4 linked regions of the Homo sapiens genome follow. The protein of the gene in region 3 binds, or shares a complex with, the protein of the main gene of each other region. Each region holds a gene or a part of one and is shown on either strand. Other genes may lie near its edges. The genes, in order: CNOT8, CNOT11, CNOT2 and CNOT9.

Region 1 (7,034 bases), on a different chromosome or scaffold from region 3:
GCCTGTTCCATGAACTGGCGTTTTAGATGCCCTCAGGGAACATAAAGCTTTGGCAAAGCTCAAGTTATATTCTTATGAAGTAAATAGGTCGGGTGCGGTGGCTCACAACTGTATGTAATCCCAGCACTTTGGGAGACCAGAGTGGGTGGATCACGAGGGTCAGGAGTTAAAGACAAGCCTGGCCAAGATGGTGAAACCCCGTCTTTACTAAAAATACAAAAGTTAGCCAGGCATGGTGGGCACCTGTAATCCCAGCTACTTAGGAGGCTGAGGCAGAGAATTGCTTGAACCTGGGAGGTGGAGGTTGCAGTGAGCCGAGATTGCACCACTGCACTCCTGCCTGGGTGACAAAGCAAGACATTACCTCAAAAAAAAAAAAAAAAAAGAAAAGAAAAGAAAAAGAAAAGGCAGTAAATAGGTGGGGCATGGTGGCTCATGCCTGTAATCCCAGCACTCTGGGAGGCCAAGGCGGGCGGATCACAAGGTCAGGAGTTCGAGACCAGCCTGGCCAACATGGTGAAACCCCGTCTCTACTAGAAAAATACAAAAATTATCCAGGCATGGTGGTGGGCGCCTGTAATCCCAGCTACTCGGGAGGCTGAGGCAGGAGAACTGCTTAAACCCGGGAGGCAGACGTTGCAGTGAGCTGAGATTGTGCCACTGCACTCCAGCCTGGGTGACAGAGCAAGACTCTGTTTCAAAAAAAAAGAAAAGGAAAGGAAGTAAATGATTTCTGTATATTACATAGCAGGTCCCTTCACTTCTTGGAGAGTAGCAAATCTAGCTTCTTTGTACAGACTTACAACTTAACTAAAGCTTTTATATTTTAAAAAAGACATTAAAAATTTTTTTTCTCTTTACCTCGTATTTCCTAGAAATGTAATGGGTATGTGTTGTCTGTTCTCCTATGTCTTTTAGCTCAAGCAACACATGTATTATTGTTGACTTTTTCTTTCTTATATCTAGTGAAAGGAAAAAAGTTCTTTGAAGAAAGAAAGAAATTAAGTTTTCTTTTTCCCTAATGCTTCCATGAAGGTCAGGGGCTTTATCTATGAAAAAGTAGCAAATAGTTATTTGTAACCCACGTGAAGCAACAGCCAGCCTTAAAGTAGTCTATTCCTGCTAATGGTTCAAACAATGAATACTAGTGTAATTGTTTGAGCTACTTGTAGTTTCTCTTAATCAAAATTACTAGATGACAGAATTAAATAACTTGTAACATGTTATTACTTGGTATACAGATGATTATCTAAAAGACTCTGTCATGAAAAAAACTGAAAAAATTAATGGTCGTATAATGCTACCCCACAGATCCAATACCTTTGTTTACAGATCTTTCCAGACTATTTTCTCTATCTACACATACACACCTACATCCCTTACATCTCTACATCACAGACCATCTTTACAAATCAATACTCATCCATTGTAACACTGTCATAATATTCCACTCTAAAGATATATCCATTAATTCAACCACAGGAATTATTTATAATACCATGTAATACAAAAGTAAGGAAATAAGCTAAACGACTCCTGTTCCACTAGACTTTCACTTGCTTTTCATATAAACTTGGGTTAGACAATAAGAAAACCACTGCAATCTTGATTTTTTTCCACTAAATTAAAACCAATGATGAATCACAAGTTTCTTTTCCACTTAAATAAACATTTTTTTTTTGTTTTGCTTATTATAACTAGGCTTCAATCCCAAGTAAACATTATTTTTTTTCTTTTTCTTGAGGCAGAGTCTCATTCTGTCACCTAGGCTGGAGTGCAGTGGCACAATCTCGACTCACTGCAGCCTCCACCTCACAGGTTCAAGTGATCCTCCCACCTCAGCCTCCTGAGTAGCTGGGATTACAGGCACCTGCCAGCATACCCAGCTAATTTTTTTATTTTTAGTAGAGATGGGGTTTCACCACATTGGCCAGGCTGGTCTTGAACTCCTGGCCTCAAGTGATCCAGTGATCCACCCACCTCGGCCTCCCAGAGTGCTGGAGTTACAGGCGTGAGCCACCACGCCCGGCTGCAAGTAAACATTATTTTAAACCCAAACATACCCAAACCACTCAGTGAAATAACTCATTTTTCTTCCTTGTATTATATTATTTTTATGGTACAAACTACAGGCTTTGACAATAAACTAAAAAATGCAGTTAAAGGAAAGATCCAGATGATCTCCCAAAATTACTTGAACCTCAAGGAAATTTCCAAAACATACGAACAACAATAAAAAAAATTACTCCTTCCAGGAACAATGGCTCCACCTGTAATCCCAACACTCTGGGAGGCCAAAGCGGGCTGATCACTTTCTACAAAAAATCAGCTGGGCATGGTGGCGTGCACCTGTAGTCCCAGCTACTTAGGGGGCTGACGTGGGAGGATCAGATAAGCCTGGGAGATTGAGGCTGCAGTAAGCCATGTTAGCACCACTGCACTCTAGCCTGGGTGACAAAGCGAGACCCTGTATTGACAGGAAAAAAAGATTACTCCTAAATCATGAAACACTCCCGATGCCCAGTTAAACAAAGCAGGATACAATAGGAAGTACACTAACATCATTTTATGCAATCAGCAAAATGACAGTCTCCCCGAAATTTTCTTTGAAAATTCCTGGGCATACATCCAAAAGAACTGAAGGCAAGACCTTGAAGAAATATTTGCACACCCATGTTCATAGCAGCAATATTCACAACAGTCAAGAGGTAGAAAAAACCCACGTGTCTATCAACAGATGAATAAACAAAATGCGGTATATACATACCATGGAATTTTCCACTGCCTAGGAGTGGAATTGCTAGGTCATATGGCAACTCTATGTTTAACCTTTTCAGGAACTGCAAAACTATTTTCCAGAATTTCCCCCAAAATTCTATATTCCCAGCAGCAATGTATGAGGGTTCCAATTTTCTCCACACCCTCAACAACACTTATTATGTCTTTTTGACTATAGCCATTCTAGTGGGTGTGAAGTGGTATCCCAATGTGGGTTTAATTTGCATTTCCCTCATGACTAATGATGTTGAGCATCTTTTCATGTGCTTACTGGCCATCTGTACATTATCTTTCAAGAAAAGTCTATCTTTTGCACATTTTTAGTTGGGTTGTTTATCTTTTCATTGTTGAGCTGCTGCAGTTCTTTAAGCAGGACTTCACTTGCTGAGATTCCCTGTTCCGTCCTCTGCTTGACCGCTCTATCCAACACCCACCTGGATTCAGTGAAAACAAAACTTAAAATTAACGCATTTATTTAGAAATCACTTACGTAAGGTTAAATTTGAAATTGAACTGCCAAGTATTGATTCCAGAAGGATACTCTCCCTTCTCATTTGTGAATGTAAGGCCCAGCTGGATAATTTTTAAAAGGTCAACATTGCACCGCAGAAGCTGATATTGGTAATCTATGGAACTACGAAATTCACCAATTGGTCGCACCACAACACCTGGAAATTCTGTGTCCTGGAAAAGGAAAAAGTCTCTCATCACAAGGTTTCACAAAACAGTGGATGCTGAATTGGTAATTCATAAATAAAATTTTACCTCCATTTATAAAAGTTATGTGGCAAGCCCCAAACTTGGGCACAAAATTCTTTTTGTGTTTTTTTGAGATAGGGTTGGTCTGTCTCTGTCACCCAGGCTGGAGGGCAGTGGCACAATCACAGCTCACTACAGCCTCAACCTCACAGGTGCAATCAATCCTCCCACCTCAGCCTCCCTAAGTAGCTGGAACTACAGGTGCACACCACCACACCCAGTTAATTATTGTATTTTTTTGTAGAGATGGGGTTTCACCATGTTGCCCAGGCTGGTCTCAAGTGATCCACCTGCCTCGGCCTCCCAAAGTGCACAGATTACAGGCATCAGCCAACACACCCAGCCAAAATCCTATCTTAAAATACTGATCTTGTTGGTATCTACTGAAGAAGCACTAAAATCATGAAGCTTTGCACAACAACTTGATCCTAAATAAGCAGAATGTCAATAGAAAGAGTTGAGTAACTACAGGTAGATATGCAGTCAATTAAGAACATTCTAGGTAGAGAACAATATATGAATAAAAATACAAATACAGGGAAGTGAAACAGCCATTCAGAAAAAAATATAAAGAGACAGGCTTAGCTTGAGTGAAAAGACTGGAAGGAGCTCTGAATACCAAGCTAAAGACTTAACTCTGTAATTTCTTTTTTTTTTTTGGGACGGAGTCTCGCTCTGTCCCCCAAGCTGGAGTGCAGTGGCACGATCTCGGCTCACTGCAAGCTCTGCCTCCCGGGTTCACGCATTCTCTGCCTCAGCCTCCCGAGTAGCTGGGACTACAGGCGCCCACCACCATGCCCGGCTAATTTTTTGTATTTTTAGTAGAGGCAGGGTTTCACCGTGTTAGCCAGGATGGTCTCAATCTCCTGACCTCGTGATCCGCCCGTCTCGGCCTCCCAAAGTGCTGGGATTACAGGCGTGAGCCACCGCGCCCGGCCAACTCTATAATTTCTAAAGCAGGAGTCACAAACTCCAAGCAGCTAATGTAAAGGAGTAAAGTCAGCTAGGTATGAAAATAGTACAAGTAATCGGGACTGGAGTAAAACAGAGAGCACATGCCCGTCTACAGGAGGCCCTTAATATTACCACAATACTCATCTCTCTCTCCAGCCAGTGTCAGGCAGGAGTGGATAACAGATATTGCCAGATCTTCCTATTTTTTTTTTTCAGAGATGCCAGAAATCTGGAATTCAAGTGAGTTCTATTGACTTTTAAATGCTGGCAATAAATTTTTAAAATTCTTAACATCGTATAGTCAAATCCAACATATCTGTGGAACAGCTGGGCCCTAGGGGATGACGTAACTTCTGCTTTAAAGACTTTCAAACAGAATAATGTTATAAAAAATCTAAGATACTAGAGGTTACATCCTTCTCAGAGACACTGGCTACCTTGATATTTCATGAAGCAACACAACCTTCCATCCGGTTTAATTTACAATGGCTTTAGTGGAACATACCCATTCTTTTCAAAATCTCAAATTAAACATTCCCTAAACCCATCCATATAAGAAGGTGAGTCAAGCTGGGCATAGTGGTATGAGCCTGCAGTCCCAGCAACCTGGAAAGGTGAGGTGGGAGGACTGCTTGAGCCCAGGAGTTCAAGGCTGCAGTGAGCTATGATTGCATCTGTGAATAGCCACCGCACTCCAGCCTGGGCAACAGAGCAAGACCCCAACTTTAAAAGTGACAAAGAAGGTGAGTCAGAGTAGAGCTCCTTACCATGGCAATATAACTGTAACTGAGCACGATTTCTCGGATCTTCCTCATCTCTTCTTCTAGATTACTGGCCCACACTTCACAGATAACCTGGCTATTCTCCACAAGTGCTGCAGGCATCCTGAAGAAACCTGAGAAGTCGTCTTCAGCTAACTAGTTTTACAGTGCAAGCCAGACAATGTTTGGTCTGATCTAGATTGTAAAACATTTTAAAATCATGTAAGTTTACACACACATAAGATGTCAACACAACAAAGACATCAAAATAATATTTTACAATCACTTCATTAGTTTAAAACATTAAGATTATATTTATTCTCCATTTTATATGATGGAGAAACTTTGTCAACACACACACACACATGCACACACGCACACACACACAGTTCTTTCTTGAAGAAACTGAAGTTATTGAAACTTCTGCCCAGCAGTCCTCTGCCACAGAAGTGAAACCACTACCCTAGTTTTTCAGCTCTCTGTAGACTAGACCAAAATAATTCCGTTACCACAAATATGCCCTTATCCATGACTTTCACATCACTTTGCACAGAGACCAAATCATGGAAACAGTCCTACAGGAATCATCTTAGCCATTTTCAATGTACCTGAGATCTCTGAAAACCTGAAAGAATGTGGACCTAAACTCTCACACTCAAGCCTTTGTACCCATATGATGAATACTGGCATGGGATTCTTCCCCCATCCCACAAAAGGAAATTATTTTTCTCTACAATCCCAAAGTCAAATACAACTAGAGGTAATAAACAATACCAGTGCCTCTTTAGACATACCAGTGCCTCTTTAGATTTGTGCAAACAGAGCATGAAGTGAGGGATTTAAGTGCTAAAAAACAATCCCACTTGCTAATCTGAACCCTAAAAACCACAATGCAAATCAGAATTTTAGTTAGTATTTACTTTTTTTTTTTTGAGATGGAGTCTTGCTCTGTCGCCCAGGCTAGAGTGCAGTGGTGCACTCTTGGCTCACTGCAACCTTTGCCTCCTGGGTGCAAGCAATTCTCCTGCCTCAGCCACCCAAGTAGCTGGGACTATAGGTGCACGCCACCACGCCCAGCTATTTTTTGTATTTTAGTAGAGATGGGGTTTCACCATATTGGTCAGGCTAGTCTTGAACCCCTGACCTTGTGATCCACCGGCCAGTATTTACTTTTAAACACATAAATTAAAAAGAAACTATGCAGCAATTCAACAGTAGGACTAAAGATGGCTGGTGTAAATCATTCAACCAGAAACAGAATGATTCATGGTGTATTTTCCAGGAGAAAAATCAGGGAGGGGAAAGTATTCTGTGAGAAAAAAATTCAACATGATTGGGTCTCTGACGAATGCTGTTATTATTATGGCAAACAACGTACAAGGCCTGGTTATAAAAATACAAAAAAGCCGGGCATGGTGGCTCACGCCTATAATCTCAGCACTTTGGAAGGCCGAGGCGGGCGGATCACAAGGTCAGGAGATAGAGACCATCCTGGCTAACACGGTGAAACTCCGTCTCTACTAAAAATACAAAACGTTGGCTGGCTGTGGTGGCACGCGCCTGCAGTCCCAGCTACTCGGGAGGCTGAGGCAGCAGAATCGCTTGAACCCAGGAGGCAGAGGTTGCAGTGAGCCAAGATCGCGCCACCGCACTCCAGCCTGGGCGACAGAGCGAGACTCCGTCTCAAAAACAAACAAACAAACAAAAAAGAGCTTATCATAAAGGCACTTACTTCTAAGGCAAGCCCACTGCATGGATCCACAACACAATAGTGGGCTCTAA
Region 2 (7,000 bases), on a different chromosome or scaffold from region 3:
TTTCTTAAAGAAGAAATTAACTGTCACTGAACATCTCTACTATGTTCTAGACACTCACTACACTAGAAAGATTCACACTAAATTACAATTTAAGTCATAATAAAAATAAAATGATGTCTCAAAAACTGAAAAGTCCTAGAGGATCCTGCTGACAGAATAAAACAAAGAGTATAAATTAATTTATATGTACCTACTTTCAATAGGTGGCTTTGGTCCGCTGACTAAAGCTTCTGTGATCTGAGAGGCAACTGAGCTGTCAAATCCAGAATTAGAAGAATCCGGGTCTGGGTCACTGAGAATACTGGGGAAGCTCGCTTTGCTTTGCGTTGGCAATTCAGATTGGCGTTCTGGAAATAGGAGACATTTTAAAATTATGGACATCATGAGGAGAGAGAAAAGACAAGCTACCAACTGAGGCAAGCTATCTGTAACAGAGAAAAACAAAGGGCCAGATTCAGAGAGAGAGAGAAAATGTGTGTATGTCTGTACGTATAGCAGGTCCTCACTTAGCGTTGTTGAAAGGTTCTTGGAATCTGCCACTAAGTGAAGTGACGTGTAACAAAACAACTATTTTTATCAATGTTATAATAAAACAATGTTGATGAAACAGTGTTATTCAAGGACCTGCTGTACATCACTTCACTTAAATCTGCAGTTTCCAACAACCCGTCAGTGATGTTAAGTGATGACTTACTGTACATATATTTTTAAATCAATGTTTTAAAAAAAGAAAGAACCCACCAGGCGCAGTGGCTCATGCCTGTAATTCCAGCACTTTGGGAGGCCGAGGCAGGCAGATCACGAGGTCAGGAGATCGAGACCATCCTGGCTAACACGGTGAAACCCTGTCTCTACTAAAAAAATACAAAAAATTAGCCGGGCATGGTGGCAGGTGCCTGTAGTCCCAGCTACTCGAGAGGCTGAGGCAGGAGAATGGCATGAACCCGGGAGGCGGAGCTTGCAGTGAGCCAAGATCGCGCCACTGCACTCCAGCCTGGGCGACAGAGCGAGACTCCATCTCAAAAAAAAAAAAAAAAAAAAGAAAGAAAGAAACCAACAGGAAAAAATGGACTAGTAACTTTAATAAGGATTTTGTTTAAAAAGCTTGAATGGCCAAAAAAATCTGAAAAGATATTTAATCCCATTAGGAACTAGGGAAAATCCAGTTAAAACACAAGATACTATAACATACCCACCAGATTGGCAAAAATGTATAAACTTGACATTACCAAATGCTGAAGAGGATGTAAGGTAACTTGCATGGTGCTACAGGAGTGAAAAATGGCAAAGCAACTTTGGAAAATAATTTGATGTTTCTTTATAATGTTTACATGTGCATTTCTTTCCATCTAGGAGACACACTTTCACACGCGCCCCAGAATAATGTGCAAGAATGTTCACAGCAGTATTATGTCCATCAACAACAGAATGGACACAGAACTTGGTACTCCACAGTGTGAAGGTACCACAGCAGCAATGAAGGGCAGCCACTGCAGTTACACGCCATCAGCATGGACTCATCTGTCAACCCCCAACAGAAGGAAGGCACAAGAGAATAAATGCAGTACAATTCCACATGTATAAAGTTCAAGGGCATGCAAAGTGAAACTATAGGCAGGCACAGGAGGGAAGCAAATTGAGGATGATTATCACAAAAATCAGGTTAGTGATGAGGCAGCCACTGGGAGAAACAGGGAGCCTGTAGGCCCTGAAAATATTCTCTTTCTTAACTTGGATGGCAGGTTGCTCCTGGTTCACTTAATTATAATTCCTTTAAAAAGTGAATGCATGTTTCACTTCAGATTGTGTAATTTTAAAAACACGGGGCTAAATTCCTGATTAAAGAACTATACAAATCAATAAAAGACCATCAACCCAATGGAAAAATGGCCAGAGACATATGAAAAGATGCCTTAGACATATAGCATCTTTTCTCATCCACTTACTAGGAGAAATGCTCACTAAAATTATCCTGTAATGCCATTTAAAAAAATCTCAGATTGTTGAAGTACAAAAAGTTAGATAACATATTATCAACCAAAATGTGAAAAAAAAAAAAAGATAAATTGGCCAGCTGTTTGGTAAACTAGTAAGTGGTAGGTGTTTGTCAGGAATAAATCATAAAGAAAAACAAAACCTCTGAAATGAAAACTCATTGTTAGGGTAAAACTTCACCCCTTGTAGTCACTTATGTTTAACTTGTCTACTTGTTTTTTTAAAGTTAAGAAAACACAAACTGCATCATCCAAAAATACACCTTTGGTCCACGGATGCCACTGGAAGACATCTGAATTTTAGACCTCCAGAGAGAAGATCTGGGTGGCTAGCTCCAGAGTGGAGGCATGCTTGCTTTTTCTTTACACTTGTGAAGAGGAATGGATCCGGACATCTGCAATCTGGGTAGAGGACGGCAGGCAGCAAGCTTAGCCACTCGGCCAGGCTTCTCAGCCCTTACTCTAGACATGTGATCCTTCCTCCACGTGATATACTTCACAACTTTCTTACGGCTACTCAAGGCATCCCAAGTTAAAAGGAAGGTCAGATGTGATTCTCACTTTATTATGATAAAAAAAATTACTATTTAAATACTATAAATAAATATTATAATAAATACTAAGCTAGAACCATCAGAATACATCACTTCTGTATCCAGTTTTCAAAGTATCTTTGGTGTTTGTCAGGAATAAATAAAAGTAATCATTTTATTTCTATTAAATTATATCTGGCACTAGTGGCTAGTACTTTTGTACTTATTAGTACAACCTTAAAAAGTCTTAAAAAGATTTCTTTTGGTTTCAGAACATAACCATTGTTACATTGTTCTTGTCTCTGCTTTTGTAACAGGGTCTCACTCTGTTGCCCAGGCTGGAGTGCAGTAGTACAATCATGGCTTATTGTAGCGTTGACCTCTCAGGATCAAGTGATCCTCTTATGTCAGCCTCCTGGGTAGCCGGGACCACAAGTGCACACACCACCATACCCAGGTAATTTTTATTTTTTTAATTACTTTTGTAGAGACAGGGTCTCCCTATGTTGCCCAGGCTGGTTTTAAACTCCTGGGCTCAAGTGATTCTCATGCCTTGGCCTCCCAAACTGCTGGGATTATAGGTATGCGCCATTGTGCCTGGCCCCATTGTTATATTGTTAATACCCAATAGTTTAAAGGTTCACAATGTTGCAAAGGAAAAGCTGTTTACTGCAACATGTCACCTTATATCAGAAGCCAAATGTCACAGGTTTATGAAGTCTAAGAAGGATGGGGCATTGTCAAAATACTTCAGCTTACTTAATTACAAAGTCAAGGGTTCACAAACCCAGCTACATATTACAATTTCCCTGTTGAGTTGCTCTCAAGTGAGAAAATGAATGCTGACAGCAGGCAAGCCCAAAGTGCCTCCTCTACTCCTTCAGAACTCAGAGAGCCTCTCTCTGACCACCAGTTCTCCTTCTCCTATTATTTTCTGTCAGGACACACTGTTTACTTCAAGAGCACTCATTCATTTGCTTACAGGTTTAACACAGAATGTGCCAGAACAATCCTGAACGAGAACAAAGTTGAAAGTCTCATACCTCCCGATTTCAAAACTTAGTACAAAGCTACAGTAATCAAAACAGTGTGGTACTGGCAGAAAGACAGACATATAGACAAATAGAATGGAATAGAAAGCCCAGAAATAAACCCTTGCATATATGGGCAAATGATTTTCAACAAGGATGCCAAGAGAACGTTGGGTTTTGGCTATTCAGCATCCCGAGACAGGTCTCACGATATTGTGCAGGCTGGAGTGCAGTGGCGCAATCACAGCTCACTGCAGCCTCGATCTCCCAGGCTCAAGTGATTCTCCCACTTAAGCCTCCCAAGTAATTGAGACCACAGGCATGCACCACCACGCCCGGCTAAGTTTTTAATTATTTGCAGAGACAAAGTTTCCTTATGTTGCCCAGGCTAGTCTTGAACTCCTGCCCTCAAACGATCCTCCCACTTTGGCCTCTCCCAAAGATTACAGGCATGAGCTACTATGCCAGCCTTTCTTTGGTTTAAAGATGGATTTTTCTTTTTTTTTTTTTTTTTGAGACAGACTCTCGCCCTGTCACCCAGGCTGAAGTGCAGTTGCACAATCTCAGCTCACTGCAACCTCCAGCTCCCAGGTTCAAGTGATTCTTGTGCCTCAGCCTCCCAATTACAGGTGTGAGCCACTGTGACTGGCCGGATTTTTCTATTTCTGCAAAAAACACTGTTGGAATTTTGACAGGAATTGCACCAAATCTGTTGATTGTTTTGGGTAGTATTGACATTTTAACAAATAGTAAGTCTTCCAATCAAAACTTAAAAAAAAACCCACTAAATTTTATCCAGCTTTCTTCTAAAACAGAAAAAGCAATCAATTCAAGTGAAAACTCCAAATGAATTTACATGCTATTAGCATCCAAAAATTTAAAGAGTTCCATTTATTTATTTATTTATTTATTTATTTATTTATTTATTTATTGAGATGGAGTCTCACTGTAGCCCAGGCTGGAGTGCAGTGGTTTGTTCTCAGCTCACTGCAACCTCCACCTCCCGGGTTCAAGCTATTCTCCTGTCTCAGCCTCCTGAGTAGCTGGGATTACAGGCGTGCTGCACCACCATGTCTGGCTAATTTTTTGTATATTTAGTAGAGACAGGGTTTCACCATGCTGGCCAGGCTAGTCTCAAACTCCTGACCTCAAATGATCTGCCCACCTCAGCCTCCCAAAGTGCTGGGATTACAGGTGTGAGCCACCGTGCCCAGCCAAGACTTCCATTTAAGATCCAGTACTAAAACTACTTTTTAAAATGGATGATACTAACCTTTTAGCAGTTACAAAAAACATCATTTTAGTAGAGTCCTCAACAAGAGAGGCCTAATATTACCACACAGAAATGCCCAAAACACTGATTCCTCCTTACCGGCCAAGGCTAACTGAAGCCCACTAATGTCCACAGACTGGCCCATGTTTCCAACGTCCATCAGTGCAATCTGGCGAGGCGTCTTTTTGAAGAGTTCCCGTGGGGGTGCCAGCATCAGCTGGGAAAGAAAAAACTTTTCTGGTGGAGTTATAGGAGGTAAAAATCCTGCAAACAAAAATGTATAACGATTTCTCCAATGGTTACTTTTAAAAATCAACTTGAATCTGGTAAAATCAGTACTTGCTACTTGCCACTTCAAGCCACATAGTTTTAAGAACTAAATTATGATTAAGTTTCAGTCAACCAAATATATACATTTACAAACTATGTAATATGTCATTTGAAATTCTATGATCTGTGGCCCTACAAATGAAACTTAAGGTTTTTGTACTTGTTAACTGTAAGAGTTAAAGAAAGAGGAAAGAAACACAAAACGCAGCCTGGCAGTCAAAGACAGGTTTTCTTTAGTTAAAACATCGGCCAGGAGTGCTTCTCAGGTTCTAACTAAAGAAAATCTGTCTTTGACTGCCAAGCTGCGTTTTGTGGCTTTTTTTTTTTTTTTGAGATGAAGTCTCACTCTTGTCTCCCAGGCTGCAGTGTGATGGCATGATCTTGGCTCACTGCAACCTCCACCTCCCGGGTTCAAGAGATTCTCCTGCCTCAGCCTCCCAAGTAGCTGGGATTACAGGCACCTGCCACCATGCCCAGCTAATGTTTGTATTTTTAGTCGAGTCGGGGTTTCACCATGTTGGCCAGGCTGGTCTTGAACTCCTGACCTCAGGTGATCCACTCGCCTCAGCCTCCCAAAGTGCTGGGATTACAGGCATGAGTCACCGTGCCCCGCCTGGTGTTTCTTTCCTCTTTAACTCTCACATTAGTAACTTCATTTTCTTTTCTTTTTTTTTTTGAGATGGAATCTCGCTCTGTCGCCCAGGCTGGAGTGCAGTGGTGCAATCTCGGCTCACTGCAAGCTCTGCCTCCTGGGTTCACGCCATTCTCCTGCCTCTGGCTCCCGAGTAGCTGGGACTACAGGCGCCCGCCACCACGCCCAGGTAATTTTTTGTACTTTTTAGTAAAGACAGGGTTTCACCGTGTTAGCCAGGATGGTCTTGATCTCCTGACCTCGAGATCCACCCACCTCGGCCTCCCAAAGTGCTGGGATTACAGGCGTGAGCCACCACGCCTGGCCCAATAACTGCATTTTCTAAAGTGCCTCAATTCCTGCAAAGGCTAAAGCTTATATATGCAAACAAAAACAGACAACACTATAGTGCTCGGAAATGCTTTTCTTTCTTCTCTGTTTCCACTGTGTAGAAGTTGAATAAATAGAAGAGCAACCAGCAGCTATCCAAATACACTACCTGATTCAACACACAATGCAGCTACAAATTCCCACAAGGCTGAATGTTCCTTCCCTTTTGTCCCATGTTTAATTGCTCATGAAGCCTCATCTCTCCCACTGCAGAAATGTCACCAGGCTGCATTCCCTCAGATGTAGTCCCCACGCCTCTCTTGCTGGGACTACTCCTGCCCCCTCTACTGACTTCCCCAGCTCCCAGTTTTGACCCCTGCTCACCCACCACCCATAGTCCATACTTCCTCTTACCATTTAGTTATATCTCTAGAGTACAAATCTGATCACATTACTTAACCTGTGTACACAGAATTAAACCCAGATTTCTACACCATTACAAGACCCTTCAAAATCTGGTCCCACCACACCTTCCTAATCTCACTTCTTGACCTTCTCTCCCATCCATGTACCCTACACCCCGGTTGCACAAAATCCCTCAACTTCTACACTATTTTTTTTTTTTTTGAGGCAGTCTCACTCTGTTGCTCAGGCTGGAGTGCAGTGGCGCGATCTCAGCTCACTACAGCCTCCGCCTCCCAGGTTCAAGCAATTCTCCTGCCTCAGACTCCTGAGTAGCTGGGATTACAGGAGTGCACCATCATGCCGGGCTAATTTTTGTATTTTTTGGTAGAGATGGGGTTTCGTCATGTTGGCCAGGCTGGCTTCCAACTCCTGGCCTCAAGTGATCTGCCTGCCTTGGCCTCCCAAAGTGCTGG
Region 3 (7,429 bases):
TATTAACTCTGCCCCTAAACTGCCCTACCTGGTACCCTGGATATTCTGCCTCTTTGTGTTACAAAATCCACTACAGATCCAGGTAACAAATAACATCATAAATGTTTGGTGGTATATTTTCCTGAAATCTCAGGAAAATAACCTGTCCTCAAATGCCTATTCAAGCAAGCACATGGCATTGTTAGTTTGCCTTCAAATATGTGATCCCAACAGAATGAACTTTCTACAGTTACAAATTTTAACAACAAAAAAAAGCTATTATTTACCACTGCTTTTAAAGAGCAAGAAAATAAATTGTAAGCTAAGTTCTTTTCATTGGTCTATTAATGCTTACTCATTATTTCATATATACATGTGAAGCATACATTTTATTCATATTATCAGAAAATCTTATGAAGTAAGTCTGTCACTAGAAAAGATAAAACTATAACTTATACAGGTTGTAAAAAATTCTGTAATGGTCTTTCAAAATACAGGTACTTTTAACACCAGTATCTACTAAAGGAATACAAATGAGAACTGGGTTAGAATCACTTCTAATAAAATCTATTCATACACCTGAAAATTTTATTTACTTTTGAACAAATAATTTTCAGATTACAATAACTGTAAAGCATCTCTGAAAAATCAAAAAGTGCAACATCCAAAGTTATAAAGCAAAAACAAAGGTAATTAGTTCTTGTAGGGAGGTATATGGGAAGTTGTATCATTCTGAATTTTTTTGTTTTTGTTTTTTGCCCAGCATCAGAAGATAAGCCACAATCTGAGTTTTATCTTCAAGAGCAGGTACTTGGGGATATAAATCACTCATACACAAGCATTTTGCCCTCATTTTTCCACCATGTAAATTAAAGTATTATAGAAATTGAAAAATTGTATAGGCTGTATTTGTTGCTTGGTTAAACAGGCAATTCTCATTCCCTGAGATCAGATTAGGTTACAGATATCTCTACATTGTATACTTAGAAAAAGATTCCTGCCAACAAATGTTTACATTAACTTATTTGTATTGATAAAGCACTAATCAAGATGCAAAAAAAACTTCAGCAGTTTCTCACTTCCTCTCTAAAATACAAAGTATTCACAAAAATTATTACAATTCAAGCTCTCAGAAAATATGAGAGAAAAGTACCTTTTTTACAGTAAGGATCTTACAAAGTCAAGAAATAAGTGAGTAGAGTGGAACATGTTTTGTCTTTAAGTGTATTTTGTATTTTTTTCTTTAGATTTAACATTATAATAGAACTACAAACTAAACAAATTCAACATACAGAGCTTACTAATTATCTTGGTCCATTATAAAACATTTCAATGAACTGGGATGTGAATATAGACACTTAACCATTTCAGCCAACTATGATTCTTAACCCTTTCAATCTGCAATAGTTACCTTACAAAATTGTGAGATTTATTCATTGACGTTTGGAAAGAACTGTTGTCAATTATGCCAAGCATTCCCAAACTCAACATCAACCTTGCATGTAAATGGATACTTTAAAATTTCTATCTCATCCCTCACCCCATACTTTATTCTTTCCATTTATATTGCTTCAAAAGGGAAATCAACAGTCACACTTATGATTCCGAGCTCTAAAAATTCCTAATATTAAGCATGACACTAAATATGTTCAACTTTGAACCTTAAATTCAAGTTGGCCTCCCTCGTGAACTGATTTTAACTGAGTACTTTTTACCATTTCGCCAAGAACTAAGGGTTCAAAGCAGTGTACTTAATTATGAGGAATTGCCCAAACGATTTTAAAAGGAGTGGGATTCTCTGACCAAGACTTTTATGAAAATGAAACAAAATATGTTGCACTCAGTCTTCCGGATGTTGAAAAGTGAAGATGTCTCCAAGGATTCGAAGGAAGTTGATGTTTAGGTTCCCTCTGAGAGGGTGGTACCCTTAATGTAAGACTTTTGTGGTAGTAATACCGTACCTACAGGCCTGGAATAAATATAAGGTCTAAAACCTTGGAAATACTTTGTATAAAAGAAAACTCCAATTCTCTTTTGCTAAGGACCACAGTTACCAAGAGTTATCAGCTTTCACCCGGACAGACAACAGTGCTTCAATGAAGAACTACAAAGGCCTCTTTTAACCCTACTCTTTTCTTCTGTTAAACTTTTAAGCGAGACCTACGACAGCAAAAGGTGGAGAGGCCCCTGCGGAAGTAGAAACCCAGGACTTGCAACTTCACAGACAGAAGCGTCTGTGGTTCCTCCGCCGCCCCAGGATCATCCGGACTCAGTCTACGACACTACGGAAGCTTCACCTTCCTGGTGCGGTGGCAGAGGCGGCATCGCAGTTGCATTCCTTCTCCCTCCACCATGCACAGCCTTCGGTATCCCAGGGCCTGCAGGATCCTGACACCCGTTAGCCAGTCCAGTGTCTCCCATCTGACACTTGCAAACACACTAACAGAAATACACATAACTGGCAGATGATATACGTGTATTGAGAGAAGGTAAGAAGCCACAGACAGCACCAGCTGCCGGGAAGGCGGCAGAGCCGTCTAAAGCGGGCTCGAGCTCGTCGGCCACGGCCACGGCCGCTGCCGCCTTCTCTTCTCCCCCAGGAAGCAGCGCGGCGGCAGCGGCTCCTCCGCGCTGGCGGGAGCCTAGGGGAGTGGAGTCTGGGGAAGCCCCACCACTCGCGGATGGGACCGGGCCTAGGATCTGGAGCTGCTGCTGCTGCAGCGGCCCGAGTACAGCGACGCTTTACGTCCGGTCCACCACCACCCCCATACACACCCCCTCCCTCCCTCCACCGCCGCCACCCCCCTCCCCGCCCGCTCCGCTCTCCGTCTCTCGATTGGAGCCGAGACAAAAGCAACGGGAAGCGGTGGGCCGGGACGCTACCGGCGGACCCTGGGCGCGACCGGACCGGCCCCGGGGCATTCCCCCGCCTTGCGGGGGCCCCGAATCTGCCGCCCCCGCCGCGCGCCCCGCTGCCAGACTTCCGAAAATTTACCAAAAACTCACCGCATGAATTTTCTTGTCCCGCGGATCCAAGATGGCGACGTATCCACCGCGGAGGCTGCTGGGAGCAAGACCTTTACCCTCTGACCGCCGCCGTGACCCCCGTCGCTCCGGCTTCCCTCCAGGCGGCAGCGGAAGGTGGGAGCGACGACTGCAAAACGGCAGCGATGGGGTGGGTAGGCAGGCCGCTTTCAGCGCGCTTCTAACAAGGTGGAGAGAGGCGCTTCACTTCCCTACCGCCCTTACCGCCGCTCCGTCTTGTCTCCCACCGACTCACAGGGAGGCTTGCTGCTCCTCCGCGGCCGTTACAGAGAGCGGGGCTTCTGCGGCCGCTACCGTTTCCCTGGGGCTAGGTTGCTTCGCAGAAGGCTCTGGCCCTGAGTCCGAGGGGGACTGCGGGGTCCAGGGGCGATGAATGGTGAGGTGGCTTCAGTCCGCCCTCCCCGGGGACGCTGAGCGTGTTCGTGTTCGTGTTTGTGTTTGTGTTTGTGTTGGACACCCCCGCCCCCGCACGTCCGCCTCGTCACTCCTCCCCTCCTCACTCCCGCCACCTGGAGCGAATCTGATCGTGTCCCTGTTTCCTCCCTCAGCTCCCGCAACCTCCGGAGCTTGTGCGCGTACTTCAGGGACCGGCACCACGTCACCGTCACCTCCTGAGTAGTGAGTTCCCCTCTGATGAAACCACTGGTGTGTTTACTCACCATCCCCACCATTTTTTTTTCCCCAACCTGATGGAAGGAAGTACATAATGGAGAGCAAGTTTTTAAAGCACGGTCGTGTCGTGTGAACTTGCTCTAGCCAAATTAGGTTTATAGCACTTTTTTTGGCTCTCATTACCTCCAGTCCCCACATAAACAAGAGTGACCAGCTGGGTCATCCGCAAGACCGTTTGAAATTATTGTGGCTTGGGTGGAAACTTAAAGGAGTGAAGTATCTGCTTTCCAGAAAAATCGTTGTCATTCAAAGTGAAATTAAACTTGTTTTCTTTGCAATAATTCGCCTTTATTTCCTTGTATATCTGTAAACTCTTCACTTTTTTGTAATTACTAGACAATTCGGACTTAAAAAGAGCCTCAGCATGTGTATTTTGGAATTGTGTAGCTTCATAATGTGAAAATTATTCTTTTCTATTTGAGTAAAGTACAGTTAATTTGAAGTAAATAAAATTTCTATTTCCATTGGTTGTTTCTTTTAAAAAGTCACCTTTTACTTACAAAAGAATCACTGTAATCCAGTTTACATTTATCATTGAAGGTCAAAAGCAAGAAATAGGAAGAAACACAAGCATACTATAAAATAAAAGGTAACTGTCATGTTTTTGAAGGTAAGGTGTTTTGACATATCAGCAGACATTGTGTGAATTTATTTCAACTCCTAGTGGTACTGGTGTAGGTAGAAAATGTTTTGCTTGGTTATTCATTTCATCAAACACTCTACTTCACTGTTTTTTTTTCACTTCAGGAAAATTCGAGGAGGAACAACACATACTAGTGTCTTTCCTTTCTTTCTCCCCGTCTTCTGCAAATAGTCCCTTCCTCTTCCTGCTTTCTCCTCCTTCTCATGTTAACATCTTCAACCATAAGATGGTGTGTTAAAAGATTGAATATACCTCTATGGAATGACTTCCAGAGGGTGTAAGTCTGATATGAGAGTTTTATTACCTTGAGTATTTTACTGGAAGAGATAGAACAACAAACATTTTCATAATAAATGTGTGGGTTAGGAGTGTTAGGAGAAAATACACTGATACTATTACTTTCAATATTTGATACTACTTACTTTGACTCTCACTGAACACCTATTTGTTTAGGATGAATTCACTTTAAGCCGGGTTGAAGAACAAGCCTTTAATTGTCCTATTATTTGTGCCAAATCTATTATAAATTTGTTAAAAAATTTTTAATACCTACCTTAGAGGGTACTCTAGGTATTTAATGAGCTAGCATTTGTTAAAGGCTTGTATAGTAAGAATTCTTATAGTAAGAGTTCTTACCAATAGATGGTATATTTTTTAAATTGTCCTGTTGCATCAAAAAGTTCATCTTTATTGGTAATGTTGATTAAGTTTGCCCATTTGGTAGTTTGGTTTCTTTTAACTATCTTACTAGATTTTCTTACTTTTACCTGAAAAGTAGTCCTTACTAATAGGCACATGTTTTGTATATTTCCAAAATATGTATTATGTTAAATTCTCTGTACACTTTATTTAAAAATTACAGACGTTGAGGGAAAAAAAATACCCTATTAAGGGAAGAATGAGTTTGTGTATAACTTGTAGAAGAAGGAGGCCACCCATTTTTAGAAAAATATGGATGGTATTGAAAATTTTGCCATGGCAAGGGATAAAAAGGACAGGCTTCTCTAATGTGTCTGAAACAACATTTGAATCCCCTTTGTTCATTCCCTAAATCTGCTGCTCCTTTAGAATTCCTGATTTTCATAAATAGTACCACCATTCACTTATTTGCTCAGGCATAAAACTTGGAATTTTCTGATTCTTCACACTCATACAACTCATCAGACAGTACCATCAGTTCTTCCTGACAAATACATTCTGAATTTAGCTACTTATCACTTCCACTGGTACAACCCTTGGGAGCCACCATCATCTGTTGCTGGACCACAGCAATAACCACACTAGTTGCTATCACTTTCTATCTGTACCCTCATGAATATTTTCCCATTTAAACCATTCTCTATATACCAACCAAAGCAATCACTTAAAAAATGTTATTAGGTTATGTCACTCCCTTGTTTAAAACCCTCCAATAGCTTCCTTATGCACACAGAATGAAATCGGAATTCCTTACCATAGCCTTCAAGACTGCATAATCTGGCTCCTGCCCACTTCTCCATCTTCCCAGGAAGCAGCACAGGAAGTTGTTCTCACCCTTCTTACTGCCTCCTTTCTGTCGTGGGCTGTGCTTTTTCTAGTCTGTAGCAGAGTCTGTTAGTTGTCCCCAAAAATTCCTCCATTTTTTTCATAGTAATAGACATGGATACATGGCTACCCAGAACAAAGACTATATTTTGCAGCCTTCCTTGTAGCCATGTAATAGTGCTGGCTGATGGGATGTAAGCAGTATATCATGTGGCACACTTGTAAAACCATCCTTAAAAGATAGTTGGTGCACACCTTCAATGCGGCTTTTCCTTTATCCTGTACCGTGGAATATAGATGTGATGGCTTAGAACTGTAGCTGCCAATTTGTGCCTCATGCAAGTTCTCTCATTCTAGGGATGGCAAAACTAAACTGGTGGAAACCAGGGTCTGTGAGAACTTTATGGATCAGAGCACCATGCTAGCCCTGCAGTCGTAAATGTCTATATTATTAAAGCCACTATTTTGGAGTCTCTTGTTCTCAACTGAATTTAATCTTACCTGATACTCTGTCTCAGGGCCTTTGCACTTGCTTTTTATTTTTTATTTATTTATTTTTTTTCTGCCTGGGATGTGGTCTTCTGTCTTGGATATGGCTGACTCATTCTCTTCCTTCAGGTTAACCCAAATATCTCTGACAGGCCTTCCCTGGCCACCGTATCTAAAATAGCTCACGTTCCCATTTATTCTCTGTCAATCACGTGCCCCTCTATTTTCTTAATAGCATTTATAATTTATCATTATCTTGTTTATTCACTGTTTATTTTCTACCTCCCTTCACCCTACAAAAATATAAACTACACCTGTTTTTTTCCACTACTTTATCCTTCACACATGGTAGGCATTAGATAAATGCTGTTAAATTAGTGAGTGAATGAATCAACAAAATTCTTATCCAAGATTAGCTAGACTTTTTAAATAATAAATGAGTAAATGTCAACAGATATCCTTAACACAAAATTTGTAAAATCCAATCTAGGAAACAGGAAAAACAGTACTAAACTAATAGGATATTCCTGACCTCCAACTTAATAAAGAAGATGTCTACCTTTTTCTGGGAAATCTGTAAGGCTAGTACAAGTTAAAAAAAAAAAGACTGCACTGCAGTATATCCAGGGCTAAAATTCACACTAAAAGGGGTCTGAATTATAATTTACTAGACCTCAGTTTCTTCATCTTAAATATGTGTAAGCTTTGAATGGTAATACTATAACAGTTAAAAGTTTAATAGTAAGCCCAACTTATGAGTGACAAAACATGTTAAACATTAATTTAGTCTTCAGGCACTATTTTAACAAGTGGTTATTTCTTGATAATACTGGCAAGGATTCAGAGAAACAGGGCTGCTTATATTGCTGAGAGTGTATGTTGGCAGCACTTTTCTAGAGTGCAGTTTGGCAATATGTATCAAAAGCCTTGAGCCATGTGCATTTGACCCAGCGATTCTTTTAGAAATGTGTCATAAGCAGGCTGGGTGCAGTGGCTCATGCCTGTAATCCCAGCACTTTGGGAGGCCAAGGCGGGTGGATCACCTGAGGCCAGGAGTTTGAGACCAGCCTGGCCAAC
Region 4 (7,034 bases), on a different chromosome or scaffold from region 3:
AAGCCTGGGCAACAAAAAGTGAGACCTTGTGTCTACAAAAAAATAAAAAAATGTAGCCAGGTGTGGTGGCATGTGCCTATGGTTCCAGCTTCTCAAGGCTGAGGTGGGTGGATTTGTGTGATCCCAGGAGTTTGAGGGTGCAGTGAGCCATGATCATGCCACTGCACTCAAGAGTGGGCAACAGAGCAAGACCTTGTCTCAAAAAAAAAAAAAAAAAATAAAATAAAAAATAAATTTCCTATTGTTCATTGCTAGTACATGGAAATTTAATTTTTTTTTTTTGAGTCTCCCTCTGCCGCCCAGGCTGGAGTGCAGTGGCGTGATCTTGGCTCACTGCAATCACTGCATCTCCACCTCCCAGGTTCAAGCGATTCTCCTGCCTCAGCCTCCCCAGCAGCTGGGACTACAGGCACATGCCACCACGCCCGGCTGATTTTTGCATTATTTTTTTAGTAGAGACTAAAAAAAAAGTAGATGAAAAAATTTAACTGGGTGAACTGACAGATTCATATTCCTGGAGTTATGGGAGAATTACAGGTTTTCAGAATGCTTAGTGTATTTGACATGCATATTCTTAGGGCATTTCAGATATACGAAGCATTCCGGTATTAGAAGTAAGACAAACAAACAAAAAAAGACAGTGGTGTGTGCCTGTGCCCATGGTCCCTATTACTTGGGAGGCTGAGGCAGGAGGATCACTTGAGCCTAGGAGTTCAATTCCAGCCTGGGTAACACAGCAAGACCCTATCAGAAAGAAAAGAAAAGAAAAGAAGAGAAGAGAAGAGAGAAGGGAAGAGGAGAAGTCCCAAATTTAAACTCTTATTCCTTTAATAATACTCTTTATATATTGAATCAAGTTCTTATGCTTTACTCTCCCTACAATTCCAGCAAATGTTTCCACATATATGCTGAATTTAATCCCAAATGTTGGATCTCAAAGTCTTATTAACAACACTTAGAAGAGTGCTTGATAGGAGTCATCATGTTCCTGATACTTATTGATTAGTGAATGAGACAACCTCAAAGACAAAAATGAATGACTGGTGTACAAAAATCATAACCGGCAAGACAAAACACCCAACTTAGACTACTACTGTGAGTATTTCAGGCTTGCAAAACAATTCTAATAACTTACCAATAACTCCAAGGCTGGTGAGCCGGAGATACTCAAAGGGACGTGTTTTGCTGACAGTGTGCAAAAAGGGGTACAAAAAAAGTGGGATGTGTGCTGCGAGAAACGCTGACCTGGAAGAAAACAATAATTACATTCACAGCCCAGGGTTGATTTCTAAGGATCCTGAACTTTCAAATTTCTAGGTGGTTAATTCTGTAAGGCCTTAACATTGTCAGAGCAAGGAATCCTTAGGAAAACAATGTTACTGGTCATTAGTCTCAACCAATGGTTCTCAAATGGGGTAAATTTTGCCCCCTGGAGGACATGTGGCAATGTCTGGAGACATCTTTGATTGTCACAACTCAGGATTATGAAGCACTATTGGCATCCAGTGGGAAGAGGCCAGAGATGCCATTAAACATCCTACAATGCACAGGACAGTCCTCTCCTGCCCTCTCCTTTCCATCACAAAGATTCATCCAGCCCCAAATGGTAATGGTGCCAAAGCTGAAAACCCTAGTCCAGATCACAGTGGTTAAGAAAACACATGATTTTCCCTGTAATCAGCAAAAAGTACCTTACAAACTGATTAACTTAAAATATCCAATTGTGGATTTTAAAAAATAGACCACAAAATGCTATTAAGTGTCCAAGAGATTGTCCTAGATTATCTCCCTCACCTATGACTGAATAATAGTATTCACAGGTGCAGTCGAATAAACCTTACAAACCAATACAACAAAACAAAGCAGCCATTATCAGGCTTACCTGCTATACTTTAATAAGCACATTCTTCTTTTTTTGTTAGGGCATTTCAGATACACAAACCATTCTGAAAACAGTTTAGTCAGGCAACTAATAAGGAAATCAGTCTATTATTTTATATTATTTATAGTTACACCTTGTAGAAGAGCCAACGCCCAAGATTTTTAACACTCAAAGTACTCTTGTGTTTTTGTTAAGTGCTTAAAAGTAATTTTCTTAGTAATTTCTCTAAAGCTGTGTAAGGTCAGTGCCAACCTAGCATACATATTTCATAAGGAAACTTGACAAAGAGGAAAGGCTTTAATAAGATGACTATTAAGTGCCTTTGGGGCCATAAAAGCCCACAAAGTAGATTCCTGAACAGGATTTCCCTTTTCTTAATTTTTTAGATATGACAGGTGGCAAAAATATTTTAACTTACATGCCAATTCTCGTCTATTATAGAGGCCGCCCAGAATGCTATGTTAAGAAGGATTCTGAAGTCAAATCTGGGTTCAGTGTGGGAAAAGTGCTGGAAAAATAATTACTAAACTCCTCTTATATGCCATGCACTATGCCTCACAGATGACATAGTGTCAATAACAGGTCAGGGAGTGAGAAGTAGCTGTATGCCTGATACCTTTCCTGTAATGTGAACACTGTTTCTTTAAAGTTCATTGGGTAAAAGTAAATAAGAATCCGGAAGACCAGGAGAGAGAGAGAGAGAGAGAGAGAGAGAGAGAGAGAGAGAGAGAGAGAGAGAGACACACACACACACACACACACACACACACACACACACACAAACGTTCTCTCTCTCTCTCCTCCATGCCCTTCCTTTTATTATTCAGAGAACGTTTAGGACCATATTCAATGTATATCTCCCCCAAGTGACTCACCCAAAGCATTTACCTGGTTTCTGGATGTGATGCTACACATTGCAGTAATGCCAGAGCATTGCAAACTCTGTTAGACTGGTGTGCTGTCAAGGTGGGTGGGTTGATAGATGGATAAATATTTACAATTTCCTAAAAAATGGAAATCAGCATCAGATGAATAAGGAATAACTAAAAATTAATTCCCATGGTAATAAAGCAAAAAAAAAAAAAGGCAAATAAAATAGCTCTTAATTCTGTGCATCTTTTAAGAACTCAGTCATCAAAGAGGGAGCAGAAATAATGCTCATATCCTTTCATCACAAACTTACTTGGCTGAGACTAGCTAAGACATTTCTACATTTGTCTCTAGGAAGATTTTTTTTTTTGAGACTCACATTTCTACATTTGTCTCTAGGAAGATTTTTTTTTTTGAGACGGAGTCTCGCTCTGTTACCCGGGCTGGAGTGCAGTGGCACGATCTTGACTCACTGCAAGCTCTGCCTCCCAGGTTCACACCATTCTCCTGCCTCAGCCTCCAGAGTAGCTGGGACTACAGGCGCCTGCCACCACGCCCAGCTAATTTTTTGTATTTTTAGTAGAGATGGGGTTTCACCGTGTTAGCCAGGATGGTCTCGATCTGCTGACCTCGTGATCTGCCCGTCTCGGCCTCCCAAAGTGCTGGGATTTCAGGCGTGAGCCACTGCGCCCGGCCTAGGAAGATTTCTGTGGAGGCAAATGTAGTCATCTACACTTCCTCTTATATTCTCCAGCTACTGAGGCTATCAGTTGAGGGATACTCAAATTTTTATAATTTTGCTAGCATCCTGCTTTAAGTTACAGTGATGAGATCACTGGCCAGAAAGTGTTAAGTCAACCACGGTGACTCATAAAGAAGTTTGAATTTGGTTAGGTAGTAACATGGTAAGGACATGAATCAATGGGTGGGGATATGTATAAACAGCAGTGAATATATGCACTATCTGTCAAAAAGTAATGATTTACTCAATACAATTCCATTTACATTTTTTTTCTTTTTTTTTGAGACAGGGTCTCACTCTGTCATCCAGGCAGAGTGCAGTGGCATGATCATGGCTCACTGCAGCCTCCACCTCCTGGGCTCAATTGATCCTCCTACTTCAGCTTCCCAAGTAGCTGGGATTACAGGAGTGTACCACCAAGCCTGGCTAATTTTTGTATTTTTTGTAGAAATGGTGTTTCGCCATGTTGCCCAGGTTGGTCTCAAACTCCTGGGCTCAAGCAATCCTCCTAACTCAGTCTGCCAAACTGCTGGGATTACAAGCATGACCCACTGCACCTGGCTACAATTTTCCATTTACATTATTTGTAAAACTTTTACATAGAAAAACGTTCCCATAACAAAGATCAGTTTCTTGGCTAAATGCAATAGAGATGGAATGTGAATTTACTTAAGAGTTGAAAAGTTAATCTAATTGTTAGGAATTTGGGGCAATACTTTAATGGATGATCATGCCACTACCTAGGTATTTTGGTATTGTTATTGTACCATATCAGTTAATTAGCCACCAGTGACCATTCTGGTTTGAACTGAACTTCAGTTATCTATTCTTTAATGTACAAGTGTACCCACCTTTAATACTACAGCTGTTATACCTTCAACATTTCCTTTCCAGGCCAGGCATGGTGGCTCATGCCTGTAATCTCAACATTTTGGGAGGCCAAGGTGGGTGGATCACGAGGTCAGGAGTTCAAGATCAGCCTGACCAACATGGTGAAACTCCGTATCTACTAAAAATTAAAAAAAAAAAAGCCAGGCATGGTGATGCAGGCCTATAATCCCAGCTACTCAGGAGGCTGAGGCAGGAGAACCACTTCAACCCGGGAGGCAGAGGTTGCAGTGAGCCGGGATTGCACCATTGCACTCTAGTCTGGGCGACAGAGCGAGATTCCGTCTCAAAAAAAAAAAAAAAAGAAAAACAAACAAAAAAACCCAAAAACCCATTTCTTTTCCATAGAATATATTGTACCTTGTGGTCCTTATACTCTACTTTCCACCTTCCTCCCCCTGTCATGTAGATTTATCTTACAGTACTCCTAAAGCGGTGTTCGTCAAAGCGTAGTTCTTAGATCACTTGCATCACAATCACCTGGGGGAGGTGAAAGTGCTTATTAAAATATAGATTATAGGGCCCACCTCAGACTGACTAAATTGAATCTCTTGGGTAAGGATCCAAGAATCTGCATTTTAACAAATACCTCAGACCTTTCTAAAACAGATTCTTACAAATGCAGTTTTTTAAAGAATCATCCTCCTAAAGTCTTCAAATCATTTGGGCAAAGGTAAAGAAATATACAAGTGTAATGAAAAGAACTGAACTGCCAATCATGGACATGAACCCACCTGTAAAAGTGCTGCAATAGTACCAAATGAATGCCACAGCATGGGTGCAAGGTCAGGAACAGATTCTCGCTTCTTACTTAGCTCCAGCAAAGCATTTTCCCTAGTCTCAGGACTGGACAGCTCATTGATCCACTGATAGATCTTTTCTCTATCCACTTGTGCCAGTGTAGTAGGCACAGGCTTCAGATGAAGACAAGAAAGTAAATATCAGTTTATTAGAGTCAAACCAAGTCTTACCCTGCAACAGAGTTTTAGAGGAAATATATTTTTCATGAATACCAGGGGAGCGTTTCTAAATACATACATTTGATGTCAACTATTCAATCTCTTTGGTAGTTACTGATGAAAATCTAAAATGCACACATACCCTTTGATAATTCCATGTTTAGGAATTTATCCTGTAGGTATAATTGGGCTGTGCTAAAGACATACCAGGATGTTTACTGTTGCACTGTTTTAAAAGCAGAAAAGTGGCCGGGCGCGGTGGCACACCCCTGTAATCCCAGCGCTGTGGGAGGCCATGTTGGGTGGGTCACTTGAGGTCAGGAGTTTGAGACCAGCCTGGCCAACATGGCGAAACCCCGTCTCTACTAAAAATACAAAATTTAGCTGGGTGTGGTGATGGGCGCCTGTAATCCCAGCTACTCAGGAGGCTGAGACAGGAGAATTGCTTGAACTTGGGAGGTGGAGGTTGCAGTGACCCGAGATAGCGCCACTGCACTCCAGCCTGGGCGACAGAGCAAAAAAAAAAAAAAAAAGCCAGGTGTGGTGGTGCATGCCTGTAGTCCCAGCTACTCAGGAGGCTGAGGCACTAGAATCGCTTGAGCATGGGAGGTGGAAGTTATAGTGAGCTGAGATTGCACCATTGCACTCCAGCTTGGGCGACAGAGTGAGACTCTGTCTCAATAAACAAACAAACAAATAAATAAATAAATAAATAAATGCAGAAAACTGGGCCAGGCGTGGTGGCTCATGCCTGTAATCCCAGCACTTTGGGAGGCCAAGGCAGGTGGATCATGAAGTCAGGAGATTGAGACCATCCTGGCTAACACGGTGAAACTGGTGTCTCTACTAAAAATACAAAAAATTAGCTGGGCGTGGTGGCAGGCGCCTGTAGTCCCAGCTACTCTGGAGGCTGAGGCAGGAGAATGGTGTGAACCCAGGAGGCGGAGGTTGCAGTGAGCCGAGATCGCGCCACTGCACTCCAGCCTGGGTGACAGTGTGAGACTCCGTCTCAAAAACAAAAATGCAGAAAACAAACAAGTATCTCTCACTAAGAGACTGGTTAAATATTGGTGCAGCTTTATAATGTGATACTATGTAGTCCTTTAAAAAAAGAAGCAGCTCTCTATATACTGTATATTGATACTAAGTAAAAACAATAAAAGGGTTACAGAAGAGCATATAAAATGTTTCCATTAATATACACACATATAAAAATAAAAAATACATATACATTCTTACACATTTACATATAACATTTCTAGAAGGACACATAAAGAACTGTTAACTGTAGTTACCTCTAAGGTTGGGGATTTACAGGGAGACTTACTTTTCATTGTTTACACTAAAACCTTTTGCATAAACTTTTTTTAAAAAACCATATGCATATAATAGTTTTTGAGAGGAAAAAAAATTATGCCTTCCCAATACTGGTCCCTCCCCAGTGATTCTGACATCCCCCCTCAACTGAGCAGAAAACCTGTAATTTGGAAAAGCTCTCCCTCTTAATGATTCTTCAGTATATTCTCTAACTACATCCCTTTGAGAACCATTCATTACTTACTCATGTAGGAAATACATACTTAATAGGGCATGCTTTCATTATTATGCTAAAGAATCACAATATTCCCCCCAAATTTGAATATTTTATAATTCTCTATAGTCATCAAATATGTTTGTGACCTTGGTTAAGTTC

Evidence for each region.
Region 1: CNOT2 (region 3) and CNOT8 share a complex: the UniProt entries of both Homo sapiens proteins name them as parts of the CCR4-NOT complex.
Region 2: CNOT2 (region 3) and CNOT11 share a complex: the UniProt entries of both Homo sapiens proteins name them as parts of the CCR4-NOT complex.
Region 4: CNOT2 (region 3) and CNOT9 share a complex: the UniProt entries of both Homo sapiens proteins name them as parts of the CCR4-NOT complex.

What each region holds. Positions count from the first base shown.
Region 1 is NC_000005.10:154,861,620-154,868,653, reverse strand, and holds part of CNOT8 (CCR4-NOT transcription complex subunit 8), read right to left. Parts: exon of another isoform or gene 6,985-7,034; intron 5,448-6,984; 5' UTR 5,376-5,447; coding exon 5,259-5,375; intron 3,463-5,258; coding exon 3,269-3,462; intron 963-3,268; coding exon of another isoform or gene 920-962; exon of another isoform or gene 862-919; intron 1-861. UniProt on the Homo sapiens protein: Has 3'-5' poly(A) exoribonuclease activity for synthetic poly(A) RNA substrate. Its function seems to be partially redundant with that of CNOT7.
Region 2 is NC_000002.12:101,255,886-101,262,885, reverse strand, and holds part of CNOT11 (CCR4-NOT transcription complex subunit 11), read right to left. Parts: intron 5,096-7,000; coding exon 4,931-5,095; intron 4,072-4,930; exon of another isoform or gene 2,845-4,071; intron 2,538-2,844; exon of another isoform or gene 1,014-2,537; intron 348-1,013; coding exon 195-347; intron 1-194. UniProt on the Homo sapiens protein: Component of the CCR4-NOT complex which is one of the major cellular mRNA deadenylases and is linked to various cellular processes including bulk mRNA degradation, miRNA-mediated repression, translational repression during translational initiation and general transcription regulation.
Region 3 is NC_000012.12:70,239,037-70,246,465, reverse strand, and holds the start of CNOT2 (CCR4-NOT transcription complex subunit 2), read right to left. Parts: upstream 3,034-7,429; 5' UTR 2,986-3,033; intron 2,726-2,985; exon of another isoform or gene 2,144-2,725; intron 1-2,143. UniProt on the Homo sapiens protein: Component of the CCR4-NOT complex which is one of the major cellular mRNA deadenylases and is linked to various cellular processes including bulk mRNA degradation, miRNA-mediated repression, translational repression during translational initiation and general transcription regulation.
Region 4 is NC_000002.12:218,578,823-218,585,856, reverse strand, and holds part of CNOT9 (CCR4-NOT transcription complex subunit 9), read right to left. Parts: intron 5,297-7,034; coding exon 5,117-5,296; intron 4,848-5,116; exon of another isoform or gene 4,788-4,847; coding exon of another isoform or gene 4,743-4,787; intron 2,887-4,742; coding exon 2,771-2,886; intron 1,246-2,770; coding exon 1,136-1,245; intron 1-1,135. UniProt on the Homo sapiens protein: Component of the CCR4-NOT complex which is one of the major cellular mRNA deadenylases and is linked to various cellular processes including bulk mRNA degradation, miRNA-mediated repression, translational repression during translational initiation and general transcription regulation.